6 linked regions of the Homo sapiens genome follow. The protein of the gene in region 1 purifies or fractionates together with the protein of each later gene. This does not show direct contact. Each region holds a gene or a part of one and is shown in the gene's direction. Other genes may lie near its edges. The genes, in order: RIOK3, ARL1, PNO1, TSR1, SUPT6H and LTV1.

The links.
Region 2: the proteins of RIOK3 (region 1) and ARL1 purify together in Homo sapiens (co-immunoprecipitation; one large-scale study listed by IntAct). This does not show direct contact.
Region 3: the proteins of RIOK3 (region 1) and PNO1 purify together in Homo sapiens (affinity purification with mass spectrometry; one large-scale study listed by BioGRID and IntAct). This does not show direct contact.
Region 4: the proteins of RIOK3 (region 1) and TSR1 purify together in Homo sapiens (affinity purification with mass spectrometry; one large-scale study listed by BioGRID and IntAct). This does not show direct contact.
Region 5: the proteins of RIOK3 (region 1) and SUPT6H purify together in Homo sapiens (affinity purification with mass spectrometry; one large-scale study listed by BioGRID and IntAct). This does not show direct contact.
Region 6: the proteins of RIOK3 (region 1) and LTV1 purify together in Homo sapiens (affinity purification with mass spectrometry; one large-scale study listed by BioGRID and IntAct). This does not show direct contact.

Annotation. Positions count from the first base shown.
Region 1 is NC_000018.10:23,451,683-23,456,099, forward strand, and holds the start of RIOK3 (serine/threonine-protein kinase RIO3), read left to right. Parts: upstream 1-1,604; 5' UTR 1,605-1,757; coding exon 1,758-1,820; intron 1,821-4,417.
Region 2 is NC_000012.12:101,392,440-101,395,309, reverse strand, and holds the end of ARL1 (ADP-ribosylation factor-like protein 1), read left to right. Parts: 3' UTR 1-2,194; downstream 2,195-2,870. UniProt on the Homo sapiens protein: GTP-binding protein that recruits several effectors, such as golgins, arfaptins and Arf-GEFs to the trans-Golgi network, and modulates their functions at the Golgi complex.
Region 3 is NC_000002.12:68,160,752-68,164,542, forward strand, and holds part of PNO1 (RNA-binding protein PNO1), read left to right. Parts: intron 1-931; coding exon 932-1,015; intron 1,016-1,513; coding exon 1,514-1,574; intron 1,575-1,794; coding exon 1,795-1,912; intron 1,913-3,791. UniProt on the Homo sapiens protein: Part of the small subunit (SSU) processome, first precursor of the small eukaryotic ribosomal subunit.
Region 4 is NC_000017.11:2,321,731-2,324,302, reverse strand, and holds the end of TSR1 (pre-rRNA-processing protein TSR1 homolog), read left to right. Parts: coding exon 1-107; 3' UTR 108-429; coding exon of another isoform or gene 430-648; 3' UTR 649-957; coding exon of another isoform or gene 958-1,167; 3' UTR 1,168-1,907; downstream 1,908-2,572. Other genes in the region: SRR (serine racemase), read right to left, coding at 430-648, 958-1,167. UniProt on the Homo sapiens protein: Required during maturation of the 40S ribosomal subunit in the nucleolus.
Region 5 is NC_000017.11:28,675,465-28,679,255, forward strand, and holds part of SUPT6H (transcription elongation factor SPT6), read left to right. Parts: coding exon 1-21; intron 22-692; coding exon 693-966; intron 967-2,250; coding exon 2,251-2,352; intron 2,353-2,611; coding exon 2,612-2,728; intron 2,729-3,080; coding exon 3,081-3,170; intron 3,171-3,356; coding exon 3,357-3,499; intron 3,500-3,791.
Region 6 is NC_000006.12:143,853,186-143,856,976, forward strand, and holds part of LTV1 (protein LTV1 homolog), read left to right. Parts: intron 1-3,791. UniProt on the Homo sapiens protein: Essential for ribosome biogenesis.

The DNA of each region.
Region 1 (4,417 bases):
TTAGCCTTTCTTTCTGGTCTGGTCTTTTCCTTTTAATCTTTTTTCTCTTTTTTTTTTTTGAGACGGAGTCTCACTCTGTTGCCCAGGTTGGAGTGCAGTGGCATGATCTTGGCTAATTGCAACCTCGGCCTCCCGAGGTCAAGTGATTCTCCTGCCTCAGCCTCCTGAGTAGCTGGGATTACAAGTGCGTGTCACCACACCCGGCTGCTTTTTGTATTTTTAGTAGAGATGGGGTTTCACCGTGTTGGCCAGGCTGGTCTCAAACTCCTGACCTCAGGTGATCCACCCACCTTGGCCTCCCAAAGTGCTGGGATTACAGGCATGACCCACCACGCCCAGCCCTCTCCTATTTTTTCCTAGCCAGAATTGAGAAGTCCATTTCTATTAATAGTTACACCCATTTTTCTTAAACTATTTATCGTCCAATTATAATCCTTTGAACACTAGGAAGGAACACAATTTCCACACACATTCACATATATAGGCAACATTTGCCAAGCACACATCTGCACCCTATCATATGGCTATAGTTTGCCTTATTGCAGTAGGGGTATTTGGAGGATTCAGAACATGTTTTCACCTGGAATGGAAAGGAGGCAAAGATTGTGTGCTAATGGAAATCATTAAGATCAGTAACCCAGGGCTCTCAAGTATGGACAGTTAGAGATACTGACTCGGAACTGAGATTTAGGGAAAACAGTTATTCAGTACCTATTTCTAGAATGTTTGAATATACAACATATAGACAGTGTATAGTTTATAGTCAAAATATAATGTACAGCCAGTCCAGTTCCCAAACCGATTGTCTGGGTTCACCCCTTATTAGCTTTGCCACTTGTTATCTGTGTGACCTCAACTAAATTACTTTACCTCTCTGTGCCTCAGTTTCAATATCAGTAAAATAGAGATAATGACAGAATTTAGCTCTCACGGTAATTTTGAGGACTAAAAAGTTAATGAAAGATTTGAACAGTGCATTGATATACTAAGTGAAATGCAATGTTTAGTTATCTTTTATCTGGTCATTTTATTAGAATCTCTACAAAATACAGAAACAAAAGTTTTATTATGCAGTCTTATTTTTGTTCACTGTTACGTAACACATTTTACACATTTTCCGCATTCCACGCCCCGCCCTTCAACAACAACCACCACAAACTCCGACCGTCCTTTCCAGGCCCTTTCCCTCTATAAACCTGCCGTTTTCTGTCTCCCAAGTCATCCCAGTTTAGAACTGCTCCAGGAAATAATGAATGAACAGAGAGAGCCTAGTTTGTTTATTTATTTACAATCCACTAGTCTAATCTAGTTTAGATCCAGCGGCAATTTTTGGGGTGCCAAGGAGGAAAGAAGGAGATGGCAGTGCGGGGACAGGGCAGAGCCTGGGCCAAAGGAAGCCACACCCAGTTCTTGCCCTGCCCTGCCCGACACAGGCAACGTGACCCCAAGCGACAGCCAGCTGATGCTTGCTTCTCCGAGCCCGGCGGTCAGCAGCCGGAAGTAGCCCGCCCGGGGGCGGGGAAAGGTGCCTTAAGGAGGAGCTAGGGGCGTGCGGCCAATTGCAAGCGACTGTCCTAGCGAAGAGGGCGGAAGAGGAGAGATCCAGTTCCGGACGCGGCCGCCGCCGTCGCCGCCATCTGTCACCTCCACTCCGGCATCAGCAGCCAGTCGCCCGTGTCCCGCCTGTCTCCTCGGCGGAGCCTGCTGCCCGTCCTGCCACCTCTCTGCTCTGTTCTTGTCTCTGCCTTCATTCCCGAATGGATCTGGTAGGAGTGGCATCGCCTGAGCCCGGGACGGCAGCGGCCTGGGGACCCAGCAAGGTAAGTGGCAGACGAGACTGGAGTACTAGCCTTGGTCACACGGGCTGGATCTCTCGGAAAGCTCGGAGAGGGCGGCTTCGTGGGCGATTCGGGAAGTTCTGGGGCGGGACCCCGCGGACCTCGGCAAGGGGGCACTGGCCGCGGGGGTGCCGGGATGGGGATGGAGGGAGCGGAAAGAGGGGCGGAGGGCGGCTGGATCTCCCAAAGGCCACCTTGAGTGGTTAGGGCTCTCTATTTCTTCAGCGTACTTTCTGTATCACCGTAGCATGTATTTGAGCAGGACTGGCTTACACACCCTGATGATACTGGAGGGGAAACAAGCACGATCTTGTTTTTCACTGGCCAAGTGAGTCAGCCGAATACACAGCTAGCCAGACAGAAAGTTGGTTTAGGAAGCTGTTTACTTAATTTGATAAGTGTGGTTATCCCAGTTTGGAAATGTCTTGTTTTTGAAGCAGTAAAAGATAAAACCCAGGCGCACCCTCCTCCCTCGACGCTGAAATTCAAGTGCGCACCACGGACTGTAAAGTGCTTATGAATTTCATTATCTGCCTAAGCTTTGACGTTTAAACTTTTTCATAGAGTGGCAAACTAAAGACCTTTATTTCACATTTGCTTTCTGGTTTCCAGGCAGGTCCTTTTCATGATACTTTGATTATATGGATGAAAACACTTTTCTGCCACTTTATGGAGGGTCTGCTTGAGAGCAGAGTGCTTCCATTGGGATTTTTTGTTCCACAAATTAAGGTCGTAAAGGAGTCTAGCTTTTTTAGCTTCATAGTTGTTCTTTACATGCTAACACAGAATATTTGTTCCCATTTAAAAGGTCTTATTAGATCTTCAGGCTAGGCCTTAACAGGAAAAGGGGTCAATAATTAGCTATTAAGTAACCAAAAGTTAATTTTGTAAAAGTTCTCGTACAGCTGTTGGAAGAATCTGAGATACTGCGTTGGCAAATGTGGTTAAGTCTGCATGTTATTTTGTGTATTTTTCCTTGAGACCTTGTTTACAAGGTCAAGATTAGCAGACATAAAAGGATGAAATCAGTAGACAGACTAGTATTATGAATATATACCCTGTATGTTAAAGTCCTTCAGTTAAGCATTGGCAGAGGCTGGTAAAAATGTCAAATGAGACAGACTCTATTCAGAATACATCCTAATCTCAGAACAAATTTCACTTACAAACTAATTCAGTAATAAACTATTTAACAGTCATATTTTTATTTAAGTGTACATCATCAGAACTATAAAATTCCATTTTCATTGTGCAACAAAAATGCTTCTGGGATTTATAGACGCTCTATTGGGAGGACAGTGTTTTGAAAGGCAAAACAATTAGAAACAGGCTGAAAGTACTATCATTAATCCTTTTTTTCTCTAACCTTTTGGAAAACCAAAGTGATTACAGAAGCCTACATGGAGGAGGTGAAGATTTGAGGAGGGTTTTGAAAAATGGAAGGATTCTCAAAACTTTTTAGTCAGGACTTCTTTCCTTCCTTCCTTCCTTCCTTTCCTTCCTTTCCTTTCCTTTCTTTCCTTCCTTTCTTTTCTTTCCTTTCTTTCCTTTTCATTTATTTATTTATTTGAGACGGAGTCTCGCCCTATCGCCCAGGCTGGAGTACAGTGGTTTGCTCCCAGCTCACTGCGACCTCTGCCTTCCGGGTTCAGGCAATTCTTGTGACTCAGCCTCCTGAGTAGCTGGGATTACAGGCGCCTGCCACCACGCCCAGCTGATTTTCGTATTTTTTTTTGTAGAGATGGGATTTCACCGTATTGGCCAGGCTGGTCTCAAACTCCGACCTCAAGTGTCCACCCGCCTCGGCCTCCCACACTGCTGGGATTACAGGCGTGAGCCACCATGCCCAACGTCTTTCTTTTTTTTTTTTTCTTTTTCTTTTTTTTTTTTGAGACGGAGTCTCGCTTTGTTGCCCAGGCTGTAGTGCAGTGGCGCGATCTCGGCTCACTGCAAGCTCCGCCTCCTGGGTTCAAGCGATTCTCCTGCCTCAGCCTCCCGAGTAGTGGGACCACAGGTGCCCACCACCACACCCGGCTAATTTTTTGTATTTTTAGTAGAGGCGGGGTTTCACCGTGTTAGCCAAGATGGTCTCGATCTCCTGACCTCGTGATCCGCCCACCTTGGCCTCTTTCTTTTTTAATTGAGACAGGGTCTCACTCTGTCACCCAGGCTGGAGTGCAGTGGCATGATCACATCTCACACTGTGCCTTGACCTTGCAGGCTCCCACCTCGGCCTCCTGATTAGCTGGACTACAGGCCAGTGCCACCACACCTAGCTAATTTTTGGGTTTTTTTTGAGACGGAGCCTCGCTCTGTCACCAGGCTGGAGAGCAGTGGCATGATCTCAGCTCACTGCAACCTCCGCCTCCTGGGTTCAAGCAATTCTTCTTCCTCAGCCTCCCAAGTAGCTGGGACTACAGGTGCATGCCACCATGCCCAGCTAATTTTTATATTTTTAGTAGAGATGGGGTTTCACCATGTTGGCCAGGATGGTCTCGATCTCTTGACATTGTGATCCTCCCACCTTGGCCTCCCAAAGTGCTGGGATTACAGGTGTGAGCCACCGCGCCCAGCCAATT
Region 2 (2,870 bases), on another chromosome or scaffold:
TAGTTGCAGCTTGTTTGTATAAATACTAAAAAATATCTTAACAGATTTTTTTCCCCTTAAAATGAATTATCTTTCCAAAGATTAGACTCAGTATGAGAGTAGGTGAGGAACATAGTTTGTGTAATATAATCTTTATTTGCTTACCTGACCACTTTTTATTAAGCTGTTTTGTTTAAAAGCTTTTGGTTATAGGCATGAATATTGTTTTGATGGTTAACTTCACTGACTTATCTGTAAGTGTCATTTTATAGTACTTTACAGTTGTCAAAAAAAATCTTACATATATTGATCTAGTTGATCGGTAGAGGAAGCTTGTGAAGTAGGTAGGACAGGTTATGATGTCTTCACTGTATGGACGTGAACCCAGGGTTCTAATAGGTTGGCTTGCCCAAGGTCACCTGCTAGCTTGTAAGGTAGGAATAGGGCTCAAAGTAAAACTTTTGGTTCAGAAGCTTGACTCATAAACTATACTATATATTCCCAAAAATGTCAGTATTGACAACACAGTCTAACTCTTAAATAAAATTATGCTAATTAGTTACATTCAAAATAATGTTTATAAATTTATTTGTCTATACTAGTAGAAGTGATCAGTGACATACTATAAATAATCCTAAATGGTTATATTTGATAGAATTCATAACACATTAAAGAGAAAATTTCACATTAAAGGAAGGTTTAAAAATCTATTTTCAGATTATAAAAGGTGTCTTTACTGGTTTTCATTCCTTTTATCTACATGTAATTGGACATGTAAACTTGTTAAAAATCAAAATCTTACTGATTGTACAGGGAGAAATTAAGCATTCTGTTTTAAAAATTAGGCTTATTGCTAGACTGTAAGTTTAAAAACAATTCATGTTCAAAGGAGCTTTTCAAATTACCCAGTCCACCACAGAATCAGCTAATGTGACAGAAGTAAATATAGTGCGTCATAATTGCTAAAAACAGGGTGAATTTCTTTCACTTAAGTTGGAAAACCAGCCTCTAAAAAATTAGGTGCTGGTAATGAGAGCTTAATACCATGGTTCCCTGCAGGTCTCAGAAACATTAGTAGTTCCTTTCTTGGCCCTCACTGTCCTTCCAGTGTTGGCCTCTGGCCTCTTCCCCTCACATTTATGTTCATTCTCCGGGCTTATATTCATTCTCTGCTGCTTTCTCCCTTCACCCGTGGGACTCTCACCCTTCTTGCTCATTCTCCAGCACCCATTCCTACTTTAGTCTCTTTGAAATCTTTTTTGGAGATTTTCCTTCAGCTACAAATGTTCCAGTACAACCAATATTACTCCTGAGGGGCAAAGACTTTTTCATATTTATGTCCCTAGTATCTGGTATGGCGCCTGGCATATGGCATTTCAGAATATGTTCATAGTTGAAACAGTAGGATAGATATTTGTCATCTTGACAAGTAGCCCTTTGCAATTTATACTTGAGTTCACTCCTGGTCAATGGCACATGGCTGGAAAATGCAGAAAGCAAGTTCACTTACAGCCTGAGGCTTATAAAGCTTGTACAGCTGCCTCCCGGCAGTCCAGGAAAACTGCAAAAAATGGGAAGTAAGGTCCTGGCAGGCAGACCCGGCATGTAGCCGCTGGCCATCTTGAATCCTAGGGCATGAAGTTGCCCCAAAGTTCAGCACTTGGTTAAGCCTGATCCCTCTGGTTTATCACAAAGAATAGGATGGGATAAAGAAAGTGGACACTTAAATAAGCTATAAATTATATGGTCCTTGTCTAGCAGGAGACAACTGCACAGGTATACTACCAGCGTTTGGATATTGATATATACATGGCAAATCTGAATATTGTTTTATGAGAGGCCTGGCAATGGGTAAAACACCAAACTTGAAATCAGAACATAGGTGCAAATGGCCACTCCTGTAGTTTCTTTTCTGTAAAATGGGATCTGGACGAATGATACCAAACGTTTCTTTCTAACATTGTATTTTATAACTCTGGCCTATGATTGTGTTGTGTCTTGCATTAAAAAAAAAAATTTGAGAGTGGTAGAATTACTTCTGTTATCTGAAATACCTGAGATGCACTTTAAACTGTTGAAATGTAAGCTCTGAGGGCAGGGACCGTATCTTATTTACTGTTAGTATCCGTTGCATCTAGTGTGGTGCACCTGGCACACAGTAGGCACTCAATAAATATGTATTGATTAAAAACAAAGACGTCTTCAATATGCCAGATATATTTGTCCTTTCTGATCTTTGCCTTAGTATTTTATTTTTAAAAATTTTATGAAAGCAATACATGCACTTAAGTCACTTAGAATTAATTAAAATCAGTCTTCTAAGATGGCCTCCTTTTGATAAATTACAAAGCCCTTAGAAGCGTGAGAATTCCCGTTTGAGATACACACTACATCAAAGCACAGATGCTGAAGTGAATGAACATTTGATTTCTGTGCCACATACTGTCATATTCTAAGCCCGTAATTACAAATTATAAAGCATGGACTTTTGTTTTTTTTTTTTTTTTTTTTTTTTGAGATGGAGTCTCACTGTCACCCAGGCTGGAGTGCATTGGCACGATCTCGGCTCACTGTAACCTCTGCCTCCCAGGCGCAAGCGATTCTCCTGGCTCAGCCTCCTGAGTAGCTGGGACTACAGGTGCCGTGCCACCACGCCCGGCTAATTTTTGTATTTTTAGTAGAGACAGGGTTTCATCATGTTGGCCAGGCTGGTCTCGAACTCCTGACCTCAAGTGATCCACCTGCCTTGGCCTCCCAAAGTGCTGGGATTACAGGTGTGAGCCACCACGCTCAGCTCAAAGCATGGACTTTGAATCTTGATTGTAGCACCTACATCCTGTATCACCCTTAGGCAAGTTATTTACTCTGAGTCTCAGTTTCTTCATCTGTAA
Region 3 (3,791 bases), on another chromosome or scaffold:
TCATTTTACTGATGAGAAAACTCAAGACCTAAAGTATCTATGGGACTTGTCTAAGGTCACATATAGGATTGGAACTAGGGTCTAGTTTTAAATGGGAAAGCTCTGGGGACTCTCCCATTGCACAAGCCCATATGGTTTTACATTTGTTGAATACGTGGTCTCTTCAACTAGACTGTGAATGTGCATGGGACAGTGGAAATAACAGTTTTGAAATCAGACCTGTGTTTAAATCTTACCTTTTTTGCTTTTTAGTACTTTAGTTTCCTCACATACGAAGGTAGTCATATCACTTAACATTCAAAGTTGTTGTGAAGGTTAGAGTTATGGTGTGTAAAGCATGTTATTTATAGTACGTGTTATTTACAGTGGTAGGCTTTTTATGAATAACAGTTATTTCTGCATTTCTCAAATAAACTTTGAGGACAGGTTCAGTGCTTCATTCATTCTTTATTTCCCCAATCAGTGCATGCAGGTAGTTAGGCCTGGAGCTGTTGGTTTAAGAAACATCAGCATATAAATGATAACTAAGAAGATTAAGTCAGGAATCCCAGGGAAGACTGCCTTGAGAGAGAAGAGAAGAGGACATTGGGCATTGAAGGGATGGACAGAAGGTAGAGGTTCTTCAGAATGGGAGAGATTGGGTTGTGCCAGAGGAGTCTTGCTGTTAACCCCAAAATCTGATCATATAGTGCGGTTAGTTATTTGACACTCTTTGGGTGGAACAGCCAAGCTTTGGAGCTGGGAACGTTTTGTTTTGCAAATAAAGTACAGCACTTATCTGACCAGAACCTGTGTCATACAGAATATATTAGGGAAAGGTGGTGGTGAAGGAAATTCTCCAATAATGGGAAAGGACATTTCCAGTATTTTGTTAGGACATTTTCTGTTTGATTCTCAACGGTATTTTGTACCCTTTTTTGTTTTTTAACAGACTTGTAAAGAAACCAAGGATGTTAGTGCTCTGACAAAAGCAGCTGATTTTGTGAAAGCTTTTATTCTCGGCTTTCAGGTGGAGGTGAGTAATTCCATGATATCTAAAATGGGGACTTTAAAAATATTCAATGTGAACATTTCAATGGATTAGGCATTAAAAAAAAAAAAGGCCAGGCACAGTGGCTCACACCTGTAATCTCAGCACTCTGGGAGGCTGAGGCAGGTGGATCACTTGAGGCCAGGAGTTCAAAATAATCCTGGCCAACATGGCGATACTCTCCATCTCTACTAAAAATACAAAAAAATTAGCTGGGTGTGGTAGTGCATGCCTGCAGTCCCAGCTACTTGGGAGGCTGAGGTGGGAGAATCACTTGAACCAGGGAAGCAGAGATTGCAGTGAGCCAAGATCACGCCACTGCACTCCAGCCTGGGCGACAGCGTAAGACTCTGTCTCCAAGGGAAAAAAAAAAGCTTTCTAGCTCTAGAGTTTGTGGATTTTAGTTCCATAGTGCTTTGCACTTTACTCTTTTTCAGGTGTGCAAATGGAAGGGGCTTCACGGTGTTTGTTTTTATATTATAGGATGCACTTGCCCTCATCAGGTTGGATGACCTCTTCCTAGAGTCTTTTGAAATTACAGATGGTGAGTGTGTGTTGGTCTGCGCTCTTGTGTCGCTGACTTTGTATTGTGATGTGACTCTCAGTTTTCTAATAGCATCAATTGAGCTGTATTTTTAGCAACTTATATATATATATATACACTTTGTGTCCTTTAGAGAAATTTAGTTTATGATTAAACTTTATGTGGAATGGGTGGTACACTAGAATGGCTTGCCTCCTGAGATCTTGCTTTTCTTGTTTAGTTAAACCCCTAAAGGGAGACCATCTATCCAGGGCAATAGGAAGAATCGCTGGCAAAGGAGGAAAAACCAAATTCACCATAGAGAATGTGACACGGACAAGGATAGTTTTGGCTGATGTGTAAGTATCTGATCTTGAGAAAATTATTGTCATAATTTATATTTGATCTTTTGTTTTAAGAAAGTCATAACAGTTGTATTTTATGCATAATGTTGCTGCTAAATCTTTGTCAGTGCAGATGCTCCTCATAAATCCATCATAAATTGAAAATATCATAAGTCTAAAATGCATTTAATATGCCTGACTTATGGAACATTATAGCTTAGCATAGCCTATCATAAACATGGTCAGAACACACATTAGCCTGCAGTTGGGCAAAGTCATCCGACACAAATTCTACTTTATGACAGAGTGTTGAATATTGAATACTGTACTAAAAATGAAAAACAGAATGGTTGTATGTGTATTTGAAGTAGAGCATTCTGAATGTGTATCACCTTTGCACCCTTGTAAAGTTGAAAAATCCCAGTTCGAACCGTGTTAAGTTGGGAATCATCTGTATACTTTTGGGTGAATAGATGGTCACCAACTTTGAAAGAGGCTTAAGTTGAGAAAATTTAAGAAATTATATATTCTTTTCTCATTTAACAATGAGGAAATGCTATTAAAAGAAATTATTACAGGTGAAGATTTAAATAATATCTCGGGTTGGGCACAGTGGCTCACGCCTGCAATCCCAGCACTTTGGGAGGCTGAGGCGGGCGGATCACCTAAGGTCAGGAGTTCGAGACCAGTCTGGCCAACATGGTGAAACCCTCTCTCTACTAAAAATACAAAAATTAGCCGGGCATGTGGCATACGCCTTTAGTCCCACCTACTCGGGAGGCTGAGGCAGGAGAATCACTTGAACCTAGGAGGAGGAGGTTGCAGTGAGCCGAGATCATGCCACTGCACTCCAGCCTGGGCGACAGAGTGAGACTCTGTCTCAAATAAATAAATACATACATACATACATACATACATACATACATACATACATACTTACTCAAGGGAATCTATTAAATCACTAGGGGAGAACAAGCAATCACTATTTCAGATGCCCTTGTGAGTCTTTAGAAGTATATATCTACTTTATGTATATACATATATATGTTAAGGCCTTTTATAAAAGGAGGGGAATATCGTACATTAGGCAAAACTAGAGAGCAGTTATATGTGAACATAAACAAGATGAGAGGGGCTTAAAATAAAGGTGCCAGAAGTGAAGCTGGGATTACCCCTGTCTGAGGTTGAAGCTGCCCAGGCTGGGGATCTTACTGGCAGATGGCTCAGAGATTATATAATGCCATGAAGTTGGGAAACTGAACAGTTGACTGAGAGGAGGAGGGTTCTGCCTATGACTAAATTCTGAAATAATTTCATTTAATATCTCAATTTTGCTCCATACTGAAGGACTCTTCATTATATAGAACCTAAATTTTGTACATTCTTTACACTTTAAGGATAACTATACTACTGTGTTGGTGGCCCTCTTTACCTGAAGCCAGGCATATAATTATATTGTTTGATCTTTTATGGATTGAGCCTAGAGTCAGAAATATGGAGCCTTGGGAGAAGCTATTTTGAACTGGAAATGTGCAAATGCACACCACATTTAAAAATATGGCCAAGCATGGTGGCTCACATCTGTAATCCCAGCACTTTGGAAGGCTGAGGCAGGTGGATGGCGTGATCTCAGGAGTCTGAGACTAGCCTGGGCAACATAGTGAAACCCCTTCTCTACAAAAAAATACAAAAATTAGCCGGGTGTGGCGGCCCACACCTGTAGTCCCAGCTACTTGGGAGGCCGAAGTGGGAGGATCACCTGAGCCCAGAAGGTTGAAGCTGCAGGGAACCACGATCGTGCCACTGTACTCAACCCTGGGCGACAGAGTGAGACTCTAACAAAATAAAAATAAAAATACCACATATAGTCTGGGCGCAGTGGATCATGCCCATA
Region 4 (2,572 bases), on another chromosome or scaffold:
ATAAACGAGTCTTCCCCAAATGGACTTATGATCCATATGTACCAGAACCAGTACCCTGGCTGAAAAGTGAGATTTCTTCAACAGTGCCTCAAGGGGGCATGGAGTAATGGATTCAAAGAGATTCTGTCTTACCGGTGCCAGTCAGTACTCCAGGGATGGGAGGCACAAGTTGTGATTGGGCAAAGTTTATTTTCTATGTCAGCCTGTCAGTCCACTGCCCCATTTTGCAAGACTTTTTTTTAGCCTTGACAAAATGTCTCAGTTAAGTATAAAAGTTTTTCCACTACTTAGTCCAAAAAAAACTATTAAATCTTAATGAAATAGCCACTCTCCATTAAGAATCTGATAACTAAGAGTTGACAATACTAGGAAACAAAATGTCTTCAGTATCTAAAGACACTGAATTCCCACCATTTCCTTTTCTGTAAATTAAACAGAAACAGACTGATAAGAAGCTGGCCTTTCAGCCTGCTTCACCCAAGTTATGGAGGAGGTTAAGTCTACATTTCCACCACTGAGCACAATACAAATGTTCTTTACTTCTGGGGAAACAGTTTGAAAATGTTGAGACAGCACAGCAGCCACTCCAACACCAGCTGTAGGTTCAATGAGTAGTTTCATCCTCTCCCACACCAGCTGGGTTGCACACTGTTGATATGGAAGGGAGTAGGAATTAGTGAAAGGGGAGTCTAGTTGGTTTACCTATAAAGTTCAGATGAGAATACGTGTCCAGTTTGAATTTTCTTATCACTGTGTACACACGCTTCCCAAAGCTTTTCTTTAATTCTGACTCTGCTTCTGTCAAGAGGGTTGTCATTAATACATCTAGGGTACCCTCCCATGTCATGAAGTTACCTAGTCAGGTTCCCGTGGGTCACTTGCTACTCCTAAGGGAAGTTTCTTCTGCCTAAGAAGTTACACCATGCTTTGCTATTTCTTTTCTTGCTGGAGCCTCACCTTAATTTCATCCTCTGTGACAGTGAAGATATCATCCACAAGGTCCCTGATAATAGGCCAGGTGTTCAAGCCAATGCTGGATTTGACACCATCTGCTATGGTTTCTGGAGGATAAAGATTGGGCATCAGTTTCCCCTTCAGCTTGGACTGGTAGCAGTCATCTGCATTTGAGGGTTCAGCAGCATATACCTTCACACTAGGTTTCAGAGCCTGGGAAGAGGAATATTAAGACATCTTAACAACAAACCACAACATTGCCTGCATGTCTAAAAGAAAATATGGGCCTGGTGTGGTGGCTCACACCTGTAATCCCAACACTTTGGGAGCCCGAGGCGGGTGGATCAGCTGAGGTCAGGAGTTCAAGACCAGCCTGGCCAACCTGGTGAAATGCAGTGTCAACTAAAAATAGGAAAATCAGCCAGGCGTGGTGGCAGACCCCTGTAATCCCAGCTACTCAAGAGGCTGAGGTAGGAGAATCACTTGAACTTGGGAGGGGTAGGTTGCAGTGAGCTGAGATCACACCAAAATGGGGTGGGGCGCAGTGGCTCACGCCTGTAATCCCAGCACTTTGGGAGGCCGAGGTGGGCGGATCACGAGGTAGGGAGATCAAGACCATCCTGGCTAACACGGTGAAACCCCGTCTCTACTAAAAATACAAAAAAAAAAAACAAAAAAAAACTAGCCAGGCATGGTGGCAGGCACCTGTAGTCCCAGCTACTCGGGAGGCAGAGGCAGGAGAATGGCGTGAACCTGGGAGGTGGAGCTTGCAGTGAGCCAAGATCGTGCCACTGCACTCCAGCCTGGGTGACAGAGTGAGACTCCGTCTCAAAAAAAAAAAGAAAATAGGCACAATAAGTAATACATTTCTGCCCAAGTAAGAGCCTTCCCTTTTGTGGATGTAATGAAAATATCTTCAAGCACTTTATAAATAAATTATATGTCTGATACTAGCCTTCCATTGCCTGGATCACATCTGATTGTCCTGGTAATTTGAGAAAAGGGTAGCCCCTTGGTATGGATAGTAGCTTGATGACATGGAATTCAGGGAAAAGACTATGATGGTGTCACTTGTAACTGCTTTTGTGCTGTAAAATTGTCATGGATTAAGAAGAGAGTTGGCTGGGTGCGGTGGCTCACACCTGTAATCCTAGCACTTTGGGAGGCCAAAGTAAGGACTGCTTGAGCCCAGGAGTTCCAGACCAACCTGGCCAACACAGCAAGACCCCATCTCTTAAAAAAAATAAAAATATTAGAAATAATAAATAGGCCGGGCGCAGTGGCTCACGCCTGTAATCCCAACACTTTGGGAGGCCAAGGCGGGTGGATCGCAAGGTCAGGAGTTCAAGACCAGCCTGACCAACATGGTGAAACCCTGTCTCTACTAAAAAAAATACAAAAAAATTAGCGGGGTGTGGTGGCTCATGCCTGTAATCCCAGCTACTCAGGAGGCTGAGACAGGAGAATCGCTTGAACCCGGGAGGTGGAGGCTGCAGTGGGCCAGGATCGTGCCACTGCACTCCAGCCTGGGCAACAGCGAGAATCTGTCTCAAAAAATAATAATAATAGTAAATAGAGTAGTGAGGCAGAGATGGGCCTTCATCTCAAGTCCCAAAGG
Region 5 (3,791 bases), on another chromosome or scaffold:
GCTTCCTGGATACACAGACGCGTGAGTGGGGTCTGGTACAAGGTGGGGATAAAGTGATTGAGTGGGCCCAGTCAGGAAGGAGGAGATCAGAGGCCTTTGCCAAAAATGGGGCATTCCCAGCTTGCAGCCATTTTGCTTCCCTGCCTCAAATAACCTCTACCAGGCAGTGATTTCAGACTGCTCCCGGAAGCCCTGGGAGCTGTCTCTGCACTCTAGGACTACTGTGGGATTGGAGTAGAGTCCCACATGGGCAAGGCTCCAGCATTCCTCTTCCGCCTACAGCTCCATGTTTATTCAATTATATATATATTGACATTCTTAATATATTTTTGTTGGAAGACAAATGCCCGCATCACAATTTACAAATTTGAAAGCTTTTGCCCTGAGGGAATACTGTAATGCCTTAGCAGAAGATGGGTCCACTGAGCAAGACATAGACCCGTCTGCTCTGTTGCTATTTGATTACTGTCACTCGAAGGTGCCAAAGATGAGCTTTTTAATCTTCCATATACAATAGTTTGCCCAGAAATATCCGCCAATGAAGCCTTTCGTCCACAGTGAATATGGTTATTTTGTTTACCTTCCTCCTAACCCTCTCAGTTCCCTTGGGACAAGTAAAGGATCTATGCAAGGGCTGCATTTCTCTCCTCTCACCTGAACCTGAGCCACCTGCCTCTTGCTGCCACCTACAGGGCCCTGCAAGAAGCCCAGGAAATCTTCGGTGTGGACTTTGACTATGATGAATTTGAGAAATACAATGAGTATGATGAAGAACTGGAGGAAGAGTATGAGTATGAGGATGATGAGGCTGAGGGTGAAATCCGAGTGCGCCCCAAGAAGACCACCAAGAAGCGTGTGAGCCGTAGGAGCATCTTTGAAATGTATGAGCCCAGTGAGCTAGAAAGCAGCCACCTCACAGATCAGGACAATGAAATCCGAGCCACTGACCTGCCTGAGAGGTTCCAGGTAAAAAACCACCAGCCTCTGCTCTTCTACCAATCCATAATTACCTTGTAGCCAAGAAATATTCTAGCAAAAGTCTGGCATTGAGTATCCAGCACAGGTTTGAACCTCATCTCACCTGGGGCCTGGGAAATCCAGCTCTTAGAGAAGGGAAGATAGACTCTACCTTGCTTACGGTTCTAGAAATACTGTTTTCTTTAGAAATCTGTGAAATGCAGTCTGGGTGCTGTGGCTCACACCTATAATCCCAGCACTTTAGGAGGCCAGGGTGGCAGATTGCTTGAGTCCAGGAACTCAAGACCAGCCTGGGCAACATAGGGAGATCTTGTCTCTACAAAAAATACAAAAAACTAGCTGGTTGTGATGGTGCACACCTGTAGTTTCAGCCACTCAGGAGGCTGAGGTGGGAAGATTGCTTGAACTTGGGAGGTCACGGCTGCAGTGAGCCATCATTGCACCACTGCACTGCAGCCTAGAAGCAGACCCTGTCTCAAAAAAAAAAAACCATGAAATGCTTATGGCCAGGCACGGTGGTTCACACCTGTAATCCCAGCACTTTGGAAGGCCAAGGTGGGTGGATCACCTGAGGTCAGGAGTTCGAGACCAGCCTGGCCAACATTGTGAAACCCCGTCTTTACTAAAAATGTAAAAAATTAGCTGGGCGGCCAGGCACGGTGACTCACGCCTGTAATCCTAGCACTTTGGGAGGCCAAGGTGGGTGGATTGCCTGAGCTCAGGAGTTAGAGGCCAGCCTGGGCAACATGGTAAAACCCTGTCTCTACTAAAATACAAAAAAAAAAAAAAATTAGCTGGGCGTTGACAGCATGCATCTGTAATCCCAGTTACTTGGGAGGTTGAGGCAGGAGAATTCCTTGAACCTGGGAGGCGGAGGTTACAGTGAGCTGAGATCGCGCCATTGCACTCCAGCCTGGGCAACAGAGCGAGACTCCATCTCAAAAAAAAAAAAATCAGCTGGGCGTGGTGGCGGGCACCTATGATCCTAGCTACTCAGGAGGCTGAGGCAGGAGAATCATTTGAACTCCGGAGGCGGAGGTTGCAGTGACCCTAGATCGCGCCGTTGTGTTCCAGCCTGAGCAACAAGAGTGAGACACCATCTCAAAAAAAAAAAATGCTTATTTCATGCCAGAACAACACTGGTATGGCATTTGTAGAACAATACTGGAAATGTGCACTTGATGATCACACGTTTCTGTCCAAAAAGGTATGTTTTTCTTAAGTGAGACACAAGATAAAGTCCGTCTCACCCTGTTGTCTTATCCACTCCAGCTCCGCTCCATCCCAGTCAAGGGGGCTGAAGATGATGAACTAGAAGAAGAAGCTGACTGGATCTACAGGAATGCTTTTGCCACACCAACCATTTCTCTCCAGGTACACAAAAAAGATCCTTAGGTTTTGACATGAACCAAAAGACACTTCATCAAGATGGGGAGCTCTTCCTCCCCTATTTCATACATCCGTGTGCCTGGTATTAGAAAACTGTGTGTATGTAGTCCCAACAAGTGTGTGTATATGAGAAAAATTTTTTAGATTTCATCTAGAAAGGTTATCCTTTGTTATTAAGCAGTCTTGTATGGTAAGACAAACCAAGTAAACATTGTCTTGCTATTTCTTTATTTTCCTACTGTAGGAAAGCTGTGATTACCTAGACCGAGGGCAGCCAGCCAGCAGCTTCAGTCGGAAAGGGCCCAGCACAATTCAGAAGATCAAAGAGGCCCTGGGCTTCATGCGAAATCAGCATTTTGAGGTAACACCTCAAGCTCTGGTGGCCCATTGGTGAGAAATTTAGTTAGGGGATGAGGGAAAAGATAATTACCTAAATGAGGTGGGAGCCCCCTTCCCGTATCCCCTATCCATGACTCAACAAGTGTTAGGACCAGCAGAGACCCTAGTGATCGTAAGAACAATGCTACCCTGTCTGCAGCTTTATTTTCTCCTATTGAGGAAAGCACCAGGCCCTGGAAGGGCTGTGAGGGAGGCCAGGCTTCTGACTGTTGAATTTCCTGGAGCTGTTTCTCCAGGAAGTCATTATCTACTGACAGAGGGGATCTTAGCAAATCTGTCTTCTCTGAGTGACTGCAGTCTCTTTGCCATCCTAGGTGCCTTTTATTGCCTTCTATCGAAAGGAGTATGTGGAGCCTGAGTTGCACATCAATGACCTATGGAGAGTCTGGCAGTGGGATGAAAAGGTAATGTAGATCCGTGGCCCCCAAGAGGTGTGGGCCAGGGAAGGCACCATTACTACCAGGATACCACAAACCCAAACCCCCCAGGCCTGTCTAGTCCTCCCCCACTAGGTTTCTGGTAAGGATCAGAGCAGCCTTGAGTCTCCAGGGCTGAACACAAGCTCTCATTCCTGCCCTACTTCACCTTAGTGGACCCAGCTGCGGATCCGTAAAGAGAACCTAACACGGCTGTTTGAGAAGATGCAGGCTTATCAGTATGAACAGATCTCTGCTGACCCTGACAAACCTCTTGCTGATGGCATCCGGGCTCTGGACACCACTGACATGGAGAGGTAAAACATGCGGTGTTTATTCCATTATGGGAAGCCCTCAGACCCCAAGGCTGGCCCTGCAGGAGCACTGTTAAACCTTGGAGAATGTGTAGCACAGGGCCCCATCCCTTAGAAATCCAACTTGTCAACCAGGCACAGTGGCTCATGCCTGTAATCCCAGCAATTTGGGAGGCCGAGGCGGGCAGATCACTTGAGGTCAGGAGTTCAAGATCAGCTTGGCCAGCATGGTGAAACCCCATCTCTACTAAAAATACAAAAAATTAGCTGGGAGCAGTGGCACACGCCTGTAATC
Region 6 (3,791 bases), on another chromosome or scaffold:
CCTTGTAAGTTGGATTCCTAGGTATTTTATTCTCTTTGTAGCAATTGTGAATGGGAGTTCCCTCACAATTTGGCTCTCTGTTTGTCTATTATTGGTATATAGGAATGCTTGTGATTTTTGCACATTGATTTTGTATCCTGAGACTTTGCTGAAGTTGCTTATCAGCTTAAGGAGATTTTGGGCTGAGATGATGGGGTTTTCTAAATAGACAGTGATGTTAATCTGCAAACAGAGACAATTTGACTTCCTCTCTTCCTATTGGAATACGCTTTATTTCTTTCTCTTGCCTGATTGCCCTGGCCAGAACTTCCAATACTGTGTTGAATAGGATTGGTGAGAGAGGGCATCCTTGTCTTGTGCCGGTTTTCAAAGGGAATGCTTCCAGCTTTTGCCCATTCAGTATGATATTGGCTGAGGGTTTGTCATAAATAGCTCTTATTATTTTGAGATATGTTCCATCAATACCTAGTTTATTGAGAGTTTTTAGCATGAAGGGGTGTTGAATTTTATCAAAGGCCTTTTCTGCATCTATTGAGATAATCATGTGGTTTTTGTCATTGGTTCTGTTTATGTAATGGATTACGTTGAACCAGCCTTGCATCCCAGGGATGAAGCCAACTTGATTGTGGTGAATAAGCTTTTTGATGTGCTGCTGGATTTGTTTTGCCAGTTTTTTATTGACGATTTTCGCATTGATGTTCATCAGGGATATTGGCCTGAAATTTTCTTTTTTTGTTGTGTCTCTGCCAGGTTTTGGTATCAGGATGATGCTGGCCTCATAAAATGAGTTAGAGAGGAGTCCCTCTTTTTCTATTGTTTGGAATAGTTTCAGAAGGAGTGGTATCAGCTCCTCTCTGTACCTCTGGTAGAATTTGGCTGTGAATCTGTCTGGTCCTGGGCTTCTCTTTTGGTTGGTAGGCTATTGCTGCCTCTATTTCAGAACATGTTATTGGTCTATTCAGGGATTCCACTTCCTCCTGATTTAGCCTTGGGAGGGTGTATGTGTCCAGGAATTTATCCATTTCTTCTAGATTTTCTAGTTTATTTTCATAGAGGTGTTTATAGTATTCTCTGATGGTAATTTGTATTTCTGTGGGATCGGTGGTGATATCCCCTTTATCAATTTTTATTGTGTCTATTTGATTCTTCTCTCTTTTCTTCTTTATTAGTCTGGCTAGCAGTCTATCTATTTTGTTAATCTTTTCAAAAAACTAGCTCCTGGATTCATTGGTTTTTTTGAAGGGTTTTCGTGTCTCTATCTCCTTCAGTTCTGCTGTGTTTTAGTTATGTCTTGTCTTCTAGGTTTTGAATTTGTTTGCTCTTGTTTCTCTACTTCTTTTAATTGTGATGTTAGGGTGTCGATTTTAGATCTTTCCTGCTTTCTCCTGTGGGAATTTAGTGCTATAAATTTCCCCTTAAACACTGCTTTAGCTGTGTCCCAGAGATTCTGGTATGTTGTGTCTTTTTTCTCATTGGTTTCGAAGAACTTATTTATTTCTACCTTATTTTTGTTATTTACCCCGTAGGCATTCAGGAGCAGGTTGTTCAGTTTCCAAGTAGTTGTGCATTTTTGAGTGGATTTCTTAAACCTGAGTTCTAATTTGATTGCAGTGTGGTCTGAGAGACTGTTTGTTATGATTGCCATTCTTTTGCATTTGCTGAGGAGTGTTTTACTTCCAATTATGTGGTCAATTTTAGGATAAGTGCAATGTGGTGCTGAGAAGAATGTATATTCTGTTGATTTGGGGTGGAGAGTTACGTCACTGTCTATTAGGTCTGCTTGGTCCAGGGCTGAGTTCAAGTCCTGAAGATCCTTGTGAATTTTCTGTCTCGTTGATCTGTCTAATATTGACAGTGGGGTGTTAAAGTCTCCCATTATTATTGTGTGGGAGTCTAAGTCTCTTTGTAGGTCTCTTAGAACTTGCTTTATGAATCTGGGTGCTCCTGTATTAGGTGCATATATATTTAGGGTAGTTAGCTCTTCTTGTTGCATTGTTCCCTTTACTATTATGTAATGCCCTTCTTTGTGTTTTTTGATCTTTGTTGGTTTAGAGTCTGTTTTATCAGAGACTAGGATTGCAACACTTGCTGTTTTTGCTTTCCATTTGCTTGGTAAATATCCTCCATTCCTTTATTTTGAGTCTGTGTGCGTCTTTGCACATGAGATAGGTCTCCTGAATACAGCACACTGATGGGTCTTGACTCTTTATCCAATTTGCCAATCTGTGTCTTTTAATTGGGGCTTTTATCCCATTTACATTTAAGGTTAATATTGTAATGTGTTATTTGATTCTGTCATTATGATGCTAGCTGGTTATTTTGCCCATTAGTTTATGCAGTTTCTTCTTAGTATCGATGGTCTTTACTGTTTGGTACGTTTTGCAGTGGCTGGTACCAGTTTTTCCTTTCCATATTTAGTGCTTCCTTCAGGAGCTCTTGTAAGGCAGGCCTGGTGGTGACAAAATCTCTCAGCATTTGCTTATCTGGAAAGGATTTTATTTCTCCTTCACTTACAAAACTTAATTTGGCTGGATATGAGATTCTAAGTTGAAAATTCTTTACTTTAAGGATGTTGAGTATTGGCCCCCACTTTCTTCTGACTTGTACGGTTTCTGCTGAGAGATCCACTGTTAGTCTGATGGGCTTCTCTTTGTGGGTAACCCGACCTTTCTCTCTGGCTGCCCTTAACATTTTTTTCTTCATTTCAACCTTCGTGAATCTGACGATTATGTGTCTTGGGGTTGCTCTTCTCGAGGAGTATCTTTGTGGTTCCTGAATTTGAATGTTGGCCTCTCTTGCTAGGTTGGGTAAGTTCTCCTGGATAATATCCTGAAGAGTGTTTTTCAACTTGGTTCCATTCTCCCTATCACTTTCAGGTACACCAATCAAACATAGAGATTTGGTCTTTTCACATAGTCCCATATTTGTTGGAGGCTTTGTTCGTTCCTTTTCATTCTTTTTTCTCTAATCTTGTCTTCACGCTTTATTTCATTAAGTTGATCTTCAATCGCTGATGTCCTTTCTTCCACTTGATCAATTCGGCTATTGATACTTGTGTATGCTTCACAAAGTTCCCTTGCTGTGTTTTTCAGCTCCATCAGGTCATTTATGTTCTTCTCTAAACTGGTAATTCTAGTTAGCAATTCCTCTAACCTTTTTTCAAGGTTTTTAGCTTCCTTGCGTTGGGTTAGAACATGCTCCTTTAGCTCCAAGGAGTTTGTTACTACCCACCTTCTGAAGCATACTTCTGTCAATTCATCAAACGCATTCTCCGTCCAGTTTTGTTCCCTTGCCGGCGAGGAGTTGTGATCCTTTGAAGAGAAGAGGCATTCTGGTTTTTGGAAATTTCAGCCTTTTTGTGCTGGTTTTTCCTCATCTTCTTGGATTTATCTACCTTTGGTCATTGTTGTTGGTGACCTTTGGATGGGGTTTCTGTGTGGACGTCCTATTTGTTGATGTTGATGCTATTCCTTTCTGTTAGGTTTATTTCTAACAGTCAGACCCCTCTGCTGTAGGTCTGCTGGAGTTTGCTGGAGGTCCAGTCCAGTCCCTGTTTGCCTGGGTATCACCAGCAGAGGCTGCAGAACAGCAAAGATTGCTGCTTGTTCCTTCCTCTGGAAGCTTTGTCCCAGAGGGGTACCCGCCAGATGCCAACCAGAGCTCTCCTCTATGAGGTGTCTATTGACCCCTGATGGGAGGTGTCTCCTAGGCAGGAGGCACAGGGGTCAGGGACCCACTTGAGGAGGCAGTCTGTCCCTTAGCAGAGCTTGAGCACTGTGCCGGGAGATCCG